Regions from separate parts of the Homo sapiens genome. Here region 1 is linked to region 2. Evidence: fine-mapped expression QTL. A gene starts in region 2. The other region holds a variant in brackets. All regions are shown on one strand. Distances are from middle to middle. Region 1 overlaps NUDCD1 (NudC domain containing 1). Region 2 holds the start of NUDCD1 (NudC domain containing 1).

Region 1 (8,808 bases), 90 kb after region 2:
CCAATCTTTTACGGTTCTCCAGTCTGCTTGCAAACTCCTAGAATCAATTACATATTTATAAGTACTGTGCATATTTTATATTTTCTACATTTGATGTGATTTTTGTTGGTATTCTGTTTCGTATTTTCAACTCTGATAATAACATTTCTCATAAAGAAGACTATCCTTACAACATGTCTTCATTTAGAAAAAGTATTGCTGTAGATGAAATTCAGTGAGTTTCAATTTGATGATTTTGTATTAAAATGCATTTCTTTAGGCATCAATATTGCAGTAACAATTATTGATGTGTTACAATAACAAATGTTGACATTATTGACATATTGACATTGATACTTTAATTAAGCAGTACGTTTAAGTAAATAGTTTTAAACATCTGAGTGTGAATTCCAGCATTGTGATATTTCTCTTTAGCCTAGAACAAGTTACTCAAACTCTCCAAGCCTGTTCTTTCATCCCTTAAATGAAGATAATAATAGCCTTGCGAGTTGTTAAGATTAGTATTTATAACATGCCTGGTTATAAATGTTATGAGAGTGTGCTCATAAATTCTGGTAGTGTCATTGTTCTTGGTAATTATTACAAGTTAGCATTAGTAAACTTCATGTGTGTATTCTATGGCCTAAAAATAGTCTGCTTATAAAATTGGTGCTTTATATCAGCAGTCCCCAACCTTTTTGGCACCAGGGACCAGTTTTGTGGAAGACAGTTTTTCCATGGGCCTGTGGGGGCTTGGTGGATGGTTTCAGGATGAAACTGTTCCACCTCAGATCATCAGGTATTAGTTAGATTCTCATAAGGCAGACAGCCTAGATCCCTTGCATGTGCATTTCACAATAGTGTTCACCCTCCTGTGAGAATCTAATTCCACTGCTGATCTGACAGGAGGTGGAGCTCAGGCAGTAATGCTCCCTTGCCTGCTGCTCATCTCTTGCTGTGCGGCCCAGTTCCTAAAAGGCCACTGACTGGTACCAGTCTGCGGCTCAGTGACTGGGGACCCCTGCTTTATATCGTGTTTTAAACTATTTACTAACAATTAAGAGGTGGTATATCACGTGGTGATTAAGAACATAGACTCTGGGTCCAAATTTCAGCTCCATGACTTATGGCCAGGCTGACCATCGACAAGTTACCTAAATGCCTTGTGCATCACTTTCCTCAGCTTTGAAATGAACATAACAGTAGCACATTTATCTCAGGGATATTATGAGGAGTCAATCAGATTAAGTATATAAAAAGTATAAAACAGTTGCTGACACTTAATGCTGGCTGTCAGCTTCTGCCATTGTTATTGTTGCTATTATTAATTTGTTGTTGAGTAAATTTTTTTTTAAATCACTTTTTAGGTGAATCTTGGAAGCAACCAGTACCTTTTCTCTGTCATAGTGGATCCTAAAGAAATGCCCTGCTTCTGTTTGCGCCATGATGTTGATGCCCTACTCTGGCAACCACACTCCAGCAAACAAGATGATATGTGGGAGCACATCGCAACTTTCAATGCTTTAGGTATAAAGCAAACTCTTTGACATTTTCCATGAAATCAGAAATACAGTCATCATTCATTTAAAGTTCATTTCTTTTTTTTCTTTTTAATTTGAGCTGTCCTGATTACATTTAGATTGATTTGCGCTATGATTTGTTTGCTTGTACTAGTTGTGAGTGTTAGCACTGTTGGAACATTTAGACTAATCTGTTTTTATGCTTGTACAGAAGATCAACACAGAATAGAAATGAAAGTGGTTATCTAACCACTTGAATTATTCTAATAAGTCATTTGCTTTTTCTAATTCTGTAAGCCATATAATACTGGAGTCTGAGCAAGGAGCTTGATAATACCCTACATGGAACTGGTGTTCAAGTTTCTTCAGAGTAATCTTCAGAAACATCATAGAATTCCCCTAAGGTGTAATGCACATTAGGAGACATCTTTTGTCAAAATTAAGTACAAAAGAGAGCCATTATAATGAAAATACTTATGGAAAGCGGTGATAAGCAGAAATTAAATTTATTTGGTAGGATAAAAGGAAAAAAATCAGTTTTAAAATTAGGGCTTGACAATGTTTAAACTACTTAATTATAGACGTATGCAATCATTGATTTTCTGTCAAAATGCATTAGTATTGTGTGACAGAAATTTTTTATGTGAATTAGCCACAGTTGTTGCTTTATTGAAAGGTTATTTTAAACAGGCAGCAAGAAGTGAAGTTACGTATTTTGATGGCTATATGTGCACAACCCTAATTGTAGAAGAAATTTATTAATTATCCCTTATAGTTAATAATGTAGGCTGCTAAACTGGTTCAGACTCCAAATGGATTTTTATGACCTGAAGTACAAAGTTTGGTTAACTAATTTAACCATATAATTTTTAGCCTCCCTACTATAATGCTATTTTTTAATTATCTATACTTTGGTCAGAAGAAAGCTCTATCATATCATCTTTAGATGCTCAGATGTTCTATTTGTATCCCCAAATCCCCTATTATAGGGGAATTCTATGCTTAATTCTAAGTTAAATCAACATATATTAGATATGTACTCTTGAAATATTATATACATTATTCTGTCAAGGTTAGCCTGGATAGCTACTTTAAACTATTTAAATAGGTATCTAAATCTTCACTTTTCCTGCTTCAAACCTGCTTAATATTTTTAAAAACAGTATTGATCTGCATGTGCTCAGTAGTTCCTTTGCTTATTCATTGTTTGATGAGATCTCAATTTTAATTAATGTTATATTCTTATTTTACATGATCATAAATACCTAACATTTGCTAACCATGTCACTATCTAAAAATCATAATTTATATTTTGGAATATAAATGTTGTTTTAATCCAAAAAGATACTTTTTAAACATGTACATGAATTAAGATAAGGATTTTTTTCAGTTTAGAGACTTGAAATTATTTTTGAAGTTATAGTGATCAACATTCTACTTGTGGGGGCTAAAAGTACAAAAAAATCCAGTTACAGTGTTGGTATTGATGTATAAAAATATCACTAACATTTTAGGGATAATAAGAGAATGCATCACGAATACTAGTACATTCAGGGATACATTATGAACAGAAAACTAAAATAACTTTATGATGGTATCCTATACACATTTTCCAATTTATTTAAGAGGAAAAAAATGGTTCTGTGATGCCCTATCCGTAACTCACGAAGCTAAATATTAAATTGGCACTTAAAGATATTTTGTCATGTATTGAGTGTTTTAGATTTTAGAATTTTAGTGTTCGAATTATTCGTGGAAATTAAATGAAGCTATATTACGCTTTTTTTGAAGCGAGAAAGCCATATCTGTTTTGTTCCTTAGGAATTAAAGTCGTATTTTTGTACCAGATGGGAGAGACTGATTGTGGCTAATCGTTAATGATTCAGAATTATATACCTTATGGTATATATTTTACTTGGGCATTTTAATTTGTAATAAACATTGCAAAATATTAAATGTTAAATCATCATTTTTCCCCTTCTGTTTAATATATAGTTTTTCTTTTGTTTGTCTCATATTCTTGGCAGGCTATGTCCAAGCATCAAAGAGAGACAAAAAATTTTTTGCCTGTGCTCCAAATTACTCGTATGCAGCCCTTTGTGAGTGCCTTCGTCGAGTATTCATCTATCGTCAGCCTGCTCCCATGTCCACTGTACTTTACAACAGAAAGGAAGGCAGGCAAGTAGGACAGGTTGCTAAGCAGCAAGTAGCAAGCCTAGAAACCAATGATCCTATTTTAGGATTTCAGGCAACAAATGAGAGATTATTTGTTCTTACTACCAAAAACCTCTTTTTAATAAAAGTAAATACAGAGAATTAATTATTCTAACATATTGGCCTCTTTGTACTGGAAAAGTATTCAGTGGTACCTGGAGGTCTGGACAGTTATACTGTAACCTCTTAAGTTTTAATGTGCTAAATATATCTTGTATGATTTTTTATTTTTTAATAACATTGGAAATATATTCAAGAGATTATGATTCTGTAAAGCTGTGGAATGAAGCTGCAGATTTAGAGAACATTGGCTTCTGAAAAAAAAAAAGAGTGAAGATAGTACTAGCAAGTATACTTATTTTTTAAAACAGGCTAGAATCTCATGTTTTATATGAAAGATGTACAATTCAGTGTTTAAAAATAAAAATATT[TATTG/G]TGTACTCTGTTCGTTGATTAGTTGCTACAGGCTGTACCTATAAGATGTACAGGATAATAGTTAAATGTTGAGTATTGTACATATGTATTTAAGTGGATTGAATAACTGAGTCTACATGGAGGAGGAAATGCTAGAGAACAGCAGGTCTAATATTTTTTAAGTTTACTGAGAGACCTTTATTATTATTTTCAAATTAAGTATAGCTTTATGTAACTTTTAGCCAGTTGCTCTGCCACAGACATAGACAAAGAGAGATAAGATTTCACATTATCCATCACTGCATAACAAACCACACCAAAACTCAGTGGTTTAAAACAAGGACTTTTATTATTTTTCACGATTCAGTGAGTTGGCTGTCTCTGCTGTACAGGGCCTCTCAGCCTCCAGTAGACTAGACGAATCTTCTTTCCATAGTAGAGAAAACATCTTAAGAGAGCAAGCTCCAATATGCAAGAGCTTATCGATCCTGTACATCTATCATATTTACTAATGTTCCATTGGACAAAGCAAATCACATGGCCAAGTCTAGAGTCAGAATGAGGGGACTACACAAGCTGACAGCGGATGGTATGACTCATTGGGGGCCATTGATGGAACAATCTTACCACACAAGGACAAATTATAATTTATCCTTGTGGCTCTCTTTATTTTTCTAACAACTTCAACAAAATAATCCTGTTTATATGTTATAGTTTCTTGCCACAAATTTTGTTTTTTCAAACTTACCTTTCCAGGTTTGTTTTAGTATGTATGTACCTGGAAATTTTTATTACTTTTTATACCATTTCAAGATATGTATCTTATATAAACCTCAAGTTGGATTTTATATTTTAATAAGGAAGTTAAGACCTTCATTTAAGAGGCAGAAGATTAAGATAAGAAATATAAGATAGAAAAGCTTTGTTCCTAACATATCTTTTGCCTGTCTGGGCAAGTATTTGACTCAACTAAATTTTAATGAACGAATGAATGACAGAGAGGAGGAAAAAAGATGAGGATTGCATACATGTTCTAAACCCTTTGTCAGATTGCAGTTTCCTAGAGAGTATTGAGGTGCTAGGTAGAAAGTTAGGAAAGGTCCTGAGGACTGGTATTGACAATTGGAGTCCTAATAGTACTCTATTCGTATTAGGAAAGAGAGACTAGATACCAAACATCACGAGATCATAGAGATGGAAAACTGTATAGTAACCAAAAACCAAAACAGTGATATTTCCAGAACTTTTTAGTATTGTTGTAAAACTTCATGAAACAAAAGACCATTTAAATAGTGAATTATTAAAAATCTTTATGATGGGAAAGTAGATCTAAATTTTCTCTAAAATTTTCCCCAAAGATAATATCCTCTTAGGGAACATAAGAAAAATGTATAATAAAAATGTGGTGCTTAATTAACCATGACTATGTATATATTGCCAATTTTAGTAATCAATATTCTTTGTGCATGTGATTTTTTTGCATGATTAATGTTGAATTGAAAGCTCTCAGGATAATTAATCCTAAATATTGTCGCATGTTGACCTACGTTAAAAGATGAATAGGTCTAGAGCCGTGATTTCAAGCTATTTTCCTGAAATGCTTCAGGGATTCCATAAACATTTAAACAATGTTCTAAGGTACATATACTTAGAACATTGAGATATATACTACAAGTGCTAAGAATATAGTACCTTGTATTTTTGTTGATTTTTATCATGTTTTAAATAGGAATTTATAAAATATTTATGATAGTAATAAAGTAGTATTTTATGTGTTTTGCATATTAAGAGTCATTAACAATATTCACTCTTTTAACACATTTAAGCATCAACTATGTACCTTAGCATGATTTTTTCAGTATTAAGGATAATATATTACTAAGGATAAAGAGACAATCTACATTTTAATGATTTTCAGATAAAATTTCTTTTTAGGGAAAAAAAGAGGAGAGGGTGGCATAGAGTGGTTGCTTTCCTGCTAAGGAAGTCTGACCAGGGCTAGAACCTTGGGGACTACCCACAAGAGTCAGGTAGAGGAGTTGCCAATGGGAAGAGTTAGAAAAAAGAATCAGAGTGTCAAGAAATTAGGAATGGTTAACAATGTTAAAAAAAATACTCTTAAATAAAGTATACTCATCAAATTTCTACATAAAAGGGAAATGACTGTACAGAACAAGTTAAACCATCATTACACAGGAATTTCTAATATTTTGTGTTATTAACTATAGAAAAGAACAGATGGTAAGTTTATGTGTGGCAAGTCATATAAGAAGGCAAAACTGATACTTATCACTGATTATTACTGGAAGAATATTCTAATTACTTCTTAGTAGTAAGTGTGTCTTACTGAACAAGTAATAATAGTTGAGTGGTAAAAAACAAAAGCCCAATGATGGAAGTATAGAAGTAATAAAGCAAAGAGAAGTAAGGCCTTCTAGAATTGGTAAGAAAGAATAAATGCACAAAAAGAGCCAAGGTAAAAGGTACCCAACTAGATATCAAGATACATCATGAAGCAGTAAAAAGAGTAGCATCATTGCATTAGTAAACAAAATAGACACACATTTAATCGTCCTATACTTACAAGAAGAAAATATCTATATTCTCAAGGTTGAGAAGGCTTCTTAAGATCCAGAAGGCAAAAATATAAGCGAAAGGATTGATGAATTTGATCATTACAAAATGTAAAATTTCTTTATGACCTACTTTTGGTATAAGATAAAGCAACAGACTGAGGAAAGATATGTGACTTATGCGTAATGTATGAATGTTAAAATCTAGAACATAAGAACTATCATTTAATAAAAAAGCAAACAAGTTATACAAAAGGAAAGCAGACAAAAGATATGAACAGTTAATTCACAGAAAAGAAAATAAAGATGGTCAGTAAAGCTACAGTAATCAAGAAAATGTGGTATTGGCACCAATTTCAACAAATAGATCCATAGATCAGAATAAAGAGTCCAGATGGAGACTCAGACACATATGGTCAGTTGATTTTAGTCAGAGATATTTCAATGAAGAGGCAATTCAAAATGCAGAGATAATTTGATGGAGAAAAGATATATTTTTAACAAGTGGCGCAAAAACAATTGGGTATTCATTTTTGCCTTTGTAGTAGCCTAAATAGTGGCCACCTGAAGATATCAGGTTCCAATCCCTGGAACATGAAAATATAACCTTATGAAGATAAAGAGTCTTTGCAGAAGTGATTACAATGAGGATCTTTACATGGAAAAATTATCCTGGATTATCTGGGGTGGACCCTAAATCTAATTGCAGTGTCCCTTACAAGAGAGAGGCAGAGTGCAATTACAAACACAAAGAGGAGAAGCTTATGTGAAGATGGTGTTTAAAAGGCCACAAGCCGAGGAGTGCTAGAGCATGCTGGCAGCCACCAGAAGCTGGAAGAAGCAAGGAATAGATTCTCCCTCAGAGCCTCTGGAGGGGGAATGGCCCTGCTGACACCTTGATTTTGGTCTTCTGGCCTCAGATCTGTGACAGAATGCATTACCACCGAATTTGTGGTAAATTCATTACAGCGGCCATAGGAAACTAACACAGCCTTATATCAGAATTTACTTAAAATGGATCATGGACCTAAATGTAAAACCTGAAACTGTGCAACTTCTAGCAGATAACATAAAGGAAAAATTTTGTAAGGCTGGGTTAGGCAAAGATTTCTTGCATATGACACCAAACAAGAAAAGTGACAAATCATACTTCATCAAAATTAAGAAATTACGTTCTTAGGCAGTGTTGTGACAATGAAAAGCCACAGATTTGGAGAAAACATTTACAAATCACTATTTAATAAAGCACTAGTGTCCAGAATGTATAAAGAACCCTCAGAACTCAATAATAAAATAATCAAATATGTAAATTTTTTATTGGGCCAAAATTTTGAACAGATACATCATACAAGATGAATGGCAAGTAAGCATGTGAAAAGGCACTCAACGTTATTGGTCACTAGGAATGAGCAGATTGAAAGCACAATGCGGTATCACTACATAGCTATTGAAATCCTTTAATTGAAGACTGACCATTCCAGATGCTGGCAAAGGTATGAAACAAATGGAGCTCTCAAACACTGCTGTTTGGAATGTAAAATGGTAGAATCGCCTTTGAAAAGAGTTTAGTGGTTTTCTAAAATGTTAAACATGGATCTTCCATGTGACCCAGCTATTCCACTTACCCATTCTTTTACCTAAGAAAAATGAAAGTATATGTCTATTCAAAGATTTGAACAGAGCAACAGCATTCATAATAATCAAACCTCAGAACAAGTCAAATATCCATCTACAGATGAAGGGCTAAATACATTGTGCTATGTCCATGCAATGGATTATTACTCAGCAATAAAAAGTATCAATATACCCAACATAGATGAATTGCAAAGTAATTATGCTGAGTGAAAGAAGCCAGAGTACATACTGTATGCTTCAACTCAAAGTTCTAGAAAGTGCAAACACATAGAAAACAGATCAGTGATTACCTGAGCGGGAGGGATTTGAAAGATTATAAATGGGCAGAGAAACATTTTAGGTAAAGAGATATCTTCATTATCTTAATTGTGGTAGTTCGTGAGTGTATATATACACAAGTTAAATTTTATTAAAAAGTATACCTTAAGCATTCCATTTTGCACATCAACGCCTCAATAATGCTTTTTAAATTT
Region 2 (8,652 bases):
CTTCCAATTTTTGGAGTTTTCCATTTTCAACCCTATATAATCTTCTACCTCATTTTTCTGCCATCTATCTTGTCCCCTTCAAGTCCAAGCTCCACACCAACAGAGTAAGATTCCTAAAGTGTAAATGTGATCTAGTCATTTCCTTTCTTAAAACTTTAAATGACTCCCATCATCCAAAAATAAAGTCAGCAACAGATGCACCTCTTTTTCTTATTGTGTGAGATCTTACATGATCACCTGAATGCCCGGGTTGAGTTGAAAGATTCCCCCTCTTCCTTATACATATTTGCCTCTTCCTTATACATATTTGTCTTACTCACTTTATAACCCTGCCTCTGGGAGCCTTTCTTGATTCCTCAGCCCCTTCTTTGTACTTCTAAACCTGTTGATTCTGCAAATATTTACGTGGCCAATTATGAACCAAACAAAGCATTAGATGCTGGGTATACAATGTTGTTTTTGGTGTTAAAGAACTTAGATTATACTGGAGGATACAAACTAGCCAAGTAGATTGTTAGAACACAATGTTGATTAAATGCTATGATGGAACAAGGTATTTGGGACTTAAAAACATTCCTTGAAGAGACAATATATAAATTAGACCTGATAGTTGAGCTAGAATTAGCTAAAAAGGAAGAGAAGGAAGAATGTTTTAGAGAGTGGAAACAGCACTTGCTGCTCCAAGGTTGAGAGCTTGGTAAATGAAGCTGGTTCCACAACATTGTCTCCCTGTTAAAACCCAGGTAACATTATGTCTCCAGTTGTAATTCAGGTATGTACTTTTTCTTCTCCATCAAATTACTCTTTAAGAGCCATATCTTGCTCATCTTTCTACATCACCACTTCCCTCCAAGTCCTGCAATACTTAACAAACCTAAATTATTTTTTCCAGATGTTCGGAATAGAAACTTTTATAATCTCAATTGTAATTCTTTCCAGTGACATGTTTCATTTCTTGTTTAGATTCTTACAAGCTAACTATTAAAGGCGGTGAAATGTAATTTATTAACACAATCTATTACTTACCGTTCTCTTTCTCCAGTTTCTATCAACTTTTGGTTAATCGCTGCTCTCATCTGCGCATCTTTGTTCATCTTGCTAACCTGGACATCAACATGTACTTTCAGATATAGAACATTTACAAAGCATTTTCTGCTAAATCCTCTAGGCAGGCATCCTAACATGTTTACCATTCTATTAACTGAAGGGGTGATACATTTCAAGTGTGTTAATAATATCATTACTCTTTATTAAACACTTATGTGCTTGGCACTGGGCTAATGCAGTGTGGGTTTGCTTTTTTTTAAACATCACATTTAATTCCCAGAACGTATTGTTACATATTTATATTAATAAAATAATCTGTATTTTACTGATGAGGAAACTGAGGCACAGAGATAGAAAGTGGAAAGGCAAAATTTGAACTCAAGTACTTTGACCCTAGGAGCTCCAAAACTGAACATAACTGCCGATCACTTCTGCAGAGACTGCATCCAAAAATTGGGAGAAGTCATACATACTAAACATCAAAAAAAGATTAAATACTATTAGTAAAAAAATAAAATTACCAGGCCGGGCACAGTGGGTCACACCTGTAATCCCAGCACTTTGGGAGGCCCAGGCAGGTGGATCACGAGGTCAGGAGTTCAAGACCAGCCTGACCAAGATGGTGAAACCCCGTCTCTACTAAAAATAGAAAAATAAGCTGGGCTTGGTGGCAGGTGTCTGTAATCCCAGCTACTCAGGAGGCTGAGGCAGGAGAATCGCTTGAACCCAGGAGACAGAGGTTGCAGTGAGCCGACATTGCGCTGCTGCACTCCAGCCTGGGTGACAGGGCAAGACTCTGTCTCAAAAAAAAAAAAAAAAATTAATTAATCAAAAAAAATAAAATTACTAGATAAGGCTCTAAGTGTTTTGCTTTACTCTTCACTAGGATGAACCCACAATTACAACTGCTAAACCTAAGTGTGTGGATGTGTGTGTTTACACACACACTGCTGGTGGGATAAGAAGAAAACAAATCTCAAACTAATTCCTAACTTACAAAGTCCTCAATTGTCAGTAAAAACAGACAACCCAAACCAAAATGATGTTGAAAGAAGAGGAAAGTTAGGTTTTGAAAGCGTTAAAGCCACTTAAAAGTTTAAATTAAATAAAACTTGGCGTAAACTAACGTTTTCCCACCTAATCTGTCACTAACTTGAGATTACTTTTGTTGTCTTCCATCTGGCCTATTGAAAATTCAGACTGGCAATGAGTTACCAGAGTTGATTTTTTTTTTCTTTTTTGAGAGGAACAGGGAAAAGGAGAAGTTGAGTGAGAACTAGGAAATGCTTGCTTTTGTAATTGGAGGCTAACATTTTCAAAATAACTACAAGGTCTAGTCAGTACCACTCCTGGAATATTGAACTTGATCTCGTCTTGGCTCCTAAAATACGGATAGTGACCTTGGACAAGTCACTTAATTCTTAAAGGCCTCAGTTTTCTCACTGGTAAAACAAGGGCGCTAGGGTATCCCTCCCAGTTCAGACATTCTTAGGGAAAATAGAACAGGGCGGAGACAGCGGGAGAGGCGGGAGAGGAGGAGCCAGAAAACAAAGCGAGGACTGGTTTCAGGCCAACTCCGGTAGCACGCCCTGTCGGAGAGCCCTACAGGCCCGCGAGCGCGGGTCGGGGACGCTAACGAAAGACAGTACATCGAAAGGAGCCTGGGCTGGGCCCGGGTCCCGGCCCTGAGGACCACGGGCATAGCTCACCACCATCACCGCGGGCGAGGGCCGTCCCTTCCCAGCGACGAAATGACCCTTGCGCTGAGGACCGTTACCTACCACACTCTTCGGCTGCCCGGACTTAGACCCTCAGTAGCTCGGGCACCTAAGCACACAGAAAGCTAGAACACGCATTTCCGGGGCGGGGTCTCGCCACCCTGCCTATAATGTGAGAATTTAACCAGCGCGGGCCGCCTCCTGGTTGCTAGGGCCTCTGGGTAACAGAGTTCAGACCTTGCCGTCGCGCGCGCGTTAAGTACCAGGAGAACTACATAGCCCAGCATGCAACAGTCTCAACTTTTTCACGGACACTACATTTCCCAGAAGGCAGTTCGCACCGCAGTGTTTTCTGGGATGGGAACCACGCCGCTTCCCAGTCTCTGTGCGAGGCGTGAAGCGCGGACCTTTCAACAAGGGCTTTATTAATTCTCACGCTGCGGCCCTGGAAAGCGATGGAGGTGGCGGCTAATTGCTCCCTACGGGTGAAGAGACCTCTGTTGGATCCCCGCTTCGAGGGTTACAAGCTCTCTCTTGAGCCGCTGCCTTGTTACCAGCTGGAGCTTGACGCAGGTGGGAAGCGGCGGCGCCCTTCGTACTCCGTTCCTTTCCCCTTTCGGCTGCCTCCGGCCTGACCCTTCCCGCAATTTCTTTCTTTCTGACTGGCAAGCGAAGCCACCGTGGCGGCTTGCGTGGACTCACGGAGGCCGCTGCTTCTGGGGAATGATGCCCATCCCAGAACCCGGTGGGAGCCGCCTTCGCGCGCTCTTCGGTAACGGGACCCTGGGCCCCCTCCGTCAGCAGCCCAGCCTCTGAGGTCTGAGGTCTGAGGGCTGGCGTGCGGGTAGTGCCTGGGGCTCTGGCTGCTGTGTGTCCACAGCCTGGCTTCTGTTTCGGGGGACGCTGAGAACATTCCTTCCTCCTGGAGCATCGCTTGTGAACGTGTGCGTTGAGAAACCACACCTCCTTGGAGGACCCCCAGTTCCTGTTTCCTCTGACCGAGAGCCGTTTCTTAGAAGAGAAACTACATTCCAGTCATAGCATTTTTAATTACTCAGTTCCTGGCACATTAAGAACTCTGGTAGAGAACATCTCTAGAAGATAGTGAGGAAAAGTGGATTTACTCCCACACTGCTACTCCTTGCTTTATCTGTAGCTGGTAGAATATCCTTACTCTTGTTTTTACAACTTAACGGCATTTTCGTTATGATAGAGCCCAGAGATCTGCATTTTAAAATTCACACCCCTGCTGATTCTGATGCATGTTTTCAGAGATCACACTTTGAGAAATAGTGATCTACAGTTAATTATAATAACAGACATTAAAGTATAAAATAAGTTTATGCTAATTGATTTATTAAATTCAGAAATATTTACCGAGTACCTGTTTTGTGTTACGTCCTGATAATATCAAAATGAACAAGACACCTTCCGTAACAAAAGAGGACTATTAGCTAGTTAGGAAGAAAATTGTAAACAGATAATTGTAAAACAATATGGGAAGGCAGTGATAGGGATATGTACAAAATACAATGGTAGTACTTGAATATCTTTCCTAAACTAGTCTGGGGATCTGGGAAGGCGTCTTGGAGGAGTTAATATCTAAGTTGAGCTTTGAAGGGTAGGTTAAGAGTTGACTAGGATGAGAGAGGATAAGCTTGATTTTTCTTTTTATTTTTTTCCTTTTCCTCTTTGCCACCGTGTTTCTTCCAGTCACCCCATGTCAGTAGATGGTATCACCATGTTTAGTTAGTGCATTAGAAAGTGAAGCCAAAATTCAGTGTCTCAAAACAAGAAGCAGTTATTATTGCTCACAAGTCTACGGGTCAGCTGAGTGGTTCTTCTAGTCCTAGTTGGGCTCATTGATGCATCCTTGTTCAGTAATGGATCTGCTGGGAAGCTCTGCTCATTTGGCTGGACTTCCTCATATGTTTGGAGGGTGGGGGTAGGGTCTCAGACTATAAGCTTGTTTAAGATTCTTTCACATGGTCTCCTCTTGACTTTTCTCCGTGTGGTCTCTTATCCTTTAGCCGACTAGACTAGCCCAGGTTGGTACCAAGAGACACTTGTGCCAGAGTCATTTGGGGTTTATTTCTTTTAGCCACTGTCTGCTTGGTAGCAAGTCCGGTCAGCTCCACATTTTGATATCTCTAGGCCTCCACCCTAATCCAAATCAGAGTTATCTCTTACCTGAACTCTAGTAGCCTCCTGACTAGCCTTCCTGCCTTCACTTTTGGGCTTCGTCATTGCATTCTCCATAAGACGTACTTATCGGCCTTTTAAATTCTATCTTGATTTGTTGTCTGTTTCCTCCACTAGACTATGAGTTCCTTGAAAACAGTGATGTTTTTCTTTTGTTCACTACCCTATATCTAGTGCTTGGCACATAGGATGTATTCAATAAAATGAGTATATGAAGAAGAGAAGAAATTGTTGAGGTCATTCCATTCATGGGAAAGCATGAGGAAAGGGAAATAATTAGTAGGTTGTATGCTGGACATCCTTGCACTCTTATATTGCTGGAGCAAAACGTCTGGGAAAGTGAGAGGAAATAAATCAGTGAGGGCCTTGTTTGCCTTTTGGATTTCTTGGATTTCCGGTCATTCAGTGTTTCCCTGACATTTTTGTATTGAGCCATTACAATATAAAATAAAACTCAGCTGCTGTAGTTCTGCCAACTTTTCTGTTTACTAGGTGGAGATGTTTCTTAAAAACTATCATTTACTCATCTATCTTTTCATAAACAAAAGGATATTTTAACACCAAAAAAGCAGGAAGCAAAATCTCACAATAAACAATCCATTGAATACTTTAACTTTAGAAAAAATTCACAAAGTTGTCCTTGTTCCGTACTCATTTCATCAGCGTTAATCTTAGATTCTGTGTTTGGGATGTACAGCTGCAGGATATCAGGTGCCATTTGAAGATTTTTTTTTTTTTTTTTTTTTTTGAGTCTGAGTCTTGCTCTATTGCGGAGGCTGGACTGTAGTAGTGTGATCTCGTCTCATTGCAACCTCTGCCTTCCGGGTTCAGGCGATTCTCCTGCCTCAGCCTCCCGAGTAGTTGGGATTACAGGCGCCCGCCACCATGCCCAGCTAATTTTTGTTTGTTTCTTTTTGTTTTTGTTTTGTTTTTTGAGACGGAGTCTCTGTCGTTGAGGCTGGAGTGCAGTGGCGCGATCTCAGCTCACTGCAACTTCCGCCTCCCGGGTTCAAGCAGTTCTCTGCCCCAGCCTCTGGAGTAGCTGGGATTACAAGTGCCCGCCACCAAGCCCAGCTAATTTTTGTATTAGAGACGGAGTTTTACTATCTTGGCCAAGCTGGTCTTGAACTCCTGACCTCGCGATCCACCTGCCTCGGCCTCCCAAAGTGCTGGGATTAACAGGCCTGAGCCACTGCTCCGACCGATTTTTTTTTTTCTTTGAAGTTCCGGGGTACATGTGCAGGATGTGCAGGTTTGGTACATAGGTAAACGTGTGCCATGGTGGTTTGCTGCACCCGTCAACCCATCACCTAGGTATTAAGCCCAGCATGCATTAGCAATTTTTCCTAATGCTCTCCCTCCCCCTACCCCATTCTCTGACAGACCACAGTGTGTGTTGTTCCCCTCCCTGTGTCCATGTGATCTCATTATTCAGCTCCCACTTACAAGTGAGAACATGTGGTGTTTTGTGTTCTGTTCCTTCGTTGGTTTGTTGAGGACAGTGGCTTCCAGCTCCTTCCATGTCCCTTTGAAGGATATGATTGTGTTCCTTTTTATGGCTGCATAGTATTCCATGGCGTATGTGTACCACATTTTAAGTACAAGGGACGTGAACAGATACGGGAGTTGAAAAGCTTACCTCAGACTCTGTGGAGGTTGAGTTTGGAAGATGAGATGACTGCACACAGCAGATAGGAGGCTTTTGCAATAGTTCACATGATGAGTTTTTCATTAGGAATTACTTGAGGATGATGAAAAAGATTATTTTGTTTAAAAACTATCATTTCTAGAGATAGTGAAGCATAATTGAGGCGCTTCTGGTAATTTGATTTCTTTTATTCTAACTGAAGGAGTTCACTTTAGTTCCACAAACCTTTGATGGGCACCTTGGCTACCTGAAACACTGCATTTAAGATGTAAAGATGATGTGGTCTCTGGTGTCAAGAACTTGATGCAATGAGGCTTATTCTCTTGTCTTAAATAATGTTATTAAGTTGTACCAAAATTTCCTTTGCTACATAAGCAGTAAATGTCACTTTGTCTTTTTCTATTCCAAAGAACGAAACAAAAAACTTATTTTTAATCAAATTGTAATTGTCTTTTGATCCGGCAATTTCCTTCCTAGGCATTTATAAATATCCTTTTCCTAGAATCTTCATTTAGTACAAGTCTTTTTATATGTTTTTATATGTTTCCCAGCTATATTTCACCTAGCTAATTCATACTTCATTCTTTCATGTTGGCTTACATGTTACTTCCTCAGGGATTCCTTTCTTGACTAGTCAGAATCTACACTATAGAATCTGTATTATGCGTTGCCATAGTAACCAGTACTTCATAGACTTTATCATACTTCGTAGCATCCAGTATGTTTTCTTTGCTAAGATTATTGATTTTGTATTGAAGGGTCCCATGTCCATCGTTTTCAATGCTTTATCTCCAGGGTTGGAGCATGCCTGGTAAGTAGGACATAAATTTGTCTCACAAATTAAACAGCTTTATGAAGACATAATTGACAATAAACTACAAATTTAAAATGTACAACTTAAGAAGTTGTGATATATGTATACACCCGTGAAATCATCACCACAATCAAGATACTAAACTTAGCTATCATTCCCAAAGTTTCCTTGTACCCTTCTGTAACCATCTCTCTGCTCCTTCTGCATTCTAGGTTGACAGTTTTTTCTTTCAATGCTTTAAAGTTATAGCCTCAGTCTTGCTTATATTGTTTCTGATGAGAAATCTCACATTATCCTATCTTTGTTGCTCTATACATAACATGCCTTTTTTCTTCTGTTTTAAGATTTTTCTCTTTTACATTGGTTTTGAGCAGTTTGATAATATTGTGGCCAGCTGTGGTTTTCTTTATGATTCTTATGTTTGGGGTTTGTTGGGCTATAAACTGCGGACATATAGTTTTTATCAAGATCAATGGCAATATTTTGGCTATTATTTCTTCCAACTTTTTCCCCTCCTTTTCTCCTTTGAAGACTCCAGTTACACATTTTTAGATCACAGAAGTTGGTCTCAGCTCATGAATGCCCGTTTCATTTTTTCTTCATACTTTTTTCTGTTTTATTGCCAATAGTTTCCATTTTCATGCCTTTAGTTCCGTTTACTTTTTTTTTTTGTAATATTAGTCTCTTGTTAATCCCATCTGGTGTATTTTTCATCTTGGACATTGTAATATTCACATCTAGAAGTTTGATTTAAATCTTTTGCATCTTTCTTGCTTCTACTTACTTATGTTGAACATACATGGAGTACATGTAGCAATAATTGTTTTTACATCTTGTTCTGTGAATTGTAGCTTCCATGTCAGTTTTATATTGGCTTCTATTGATTGGTAATTCTCTTCATTATGGATTTTGTTTTCTTTCCTCTTTGCATATGTGGTAATCTTTGATTGGATGCCAGACATTGTGAATTTTACCTTGTTAGGTGCAGGTTATTTTTGTATTTTTATAATGTTCTTGAGTTTTTTTTCCGGGATATAGTTGAGTTACTTGGAAACAGATTAATTCCATTGGTTCTTGCTTTTATGATTTGTTAGTCCGATCAGGAGCAGTGCTCAGTCTAGGGTTATTTCCCACTACCGAGGCAAGACTTTCCTGTGTACACTACCCAGTATCCCACAAATTAAGGGTTTTCTCCATTCTGCTTATTGGGAGCAGTTATGGTT

What was found. PIP is the estimated chance that this variant, and not a neighbour inherited with it, causes the effect.
Region 1: its variant is fine-mapped to the expression of NUDCD1 in whole blood (INTERVAL, PIP above 0.99).

What each region holds. Positions count from the first base shown.
Region 1 is chr8:109,238,020-109,246,827 of GRCh38, reverse strand. It overlaps NUDCD1 (NudC domain containing 1), which reads left to right. Exons shown (of 10, transcript NM_032869.4): 9 at 1,347-1,506; 10 at 3,527-5,909. The coding sequence ends at 3,819. Among named protein-coding and RNA genes, the nearest start is that of NUDCD1, 92 kb to the left of the region's middle. The variant TATTG/G (reference allele first, on the strand shown) is at 4,145.
Region 2 is chr8:109,328,579-109,337,230 of GRCh38, reverse strand. It overlaps NUDCD1 (NudC domain containing 1), which reads left to right and starts at 3,144. Exons shown (of 10, transcript NM_032869.4): 1 at 3,144-3,338. The coding sequence starts at 3,221. It overlaps ENY2 (ENY2 transcription and export complex 2 subunit), which reads right to left and starts at 2,884. Exons shown (of 5, transcript NM_020189.6): 1 at 2,757-2,884; 2 at 1,027-1,103. The coding sequence starts at 2,762. RefSeq lists enhancers at 2,603-2,852, 2,118-3,040, 3,223-3,272, 3,403-3,452.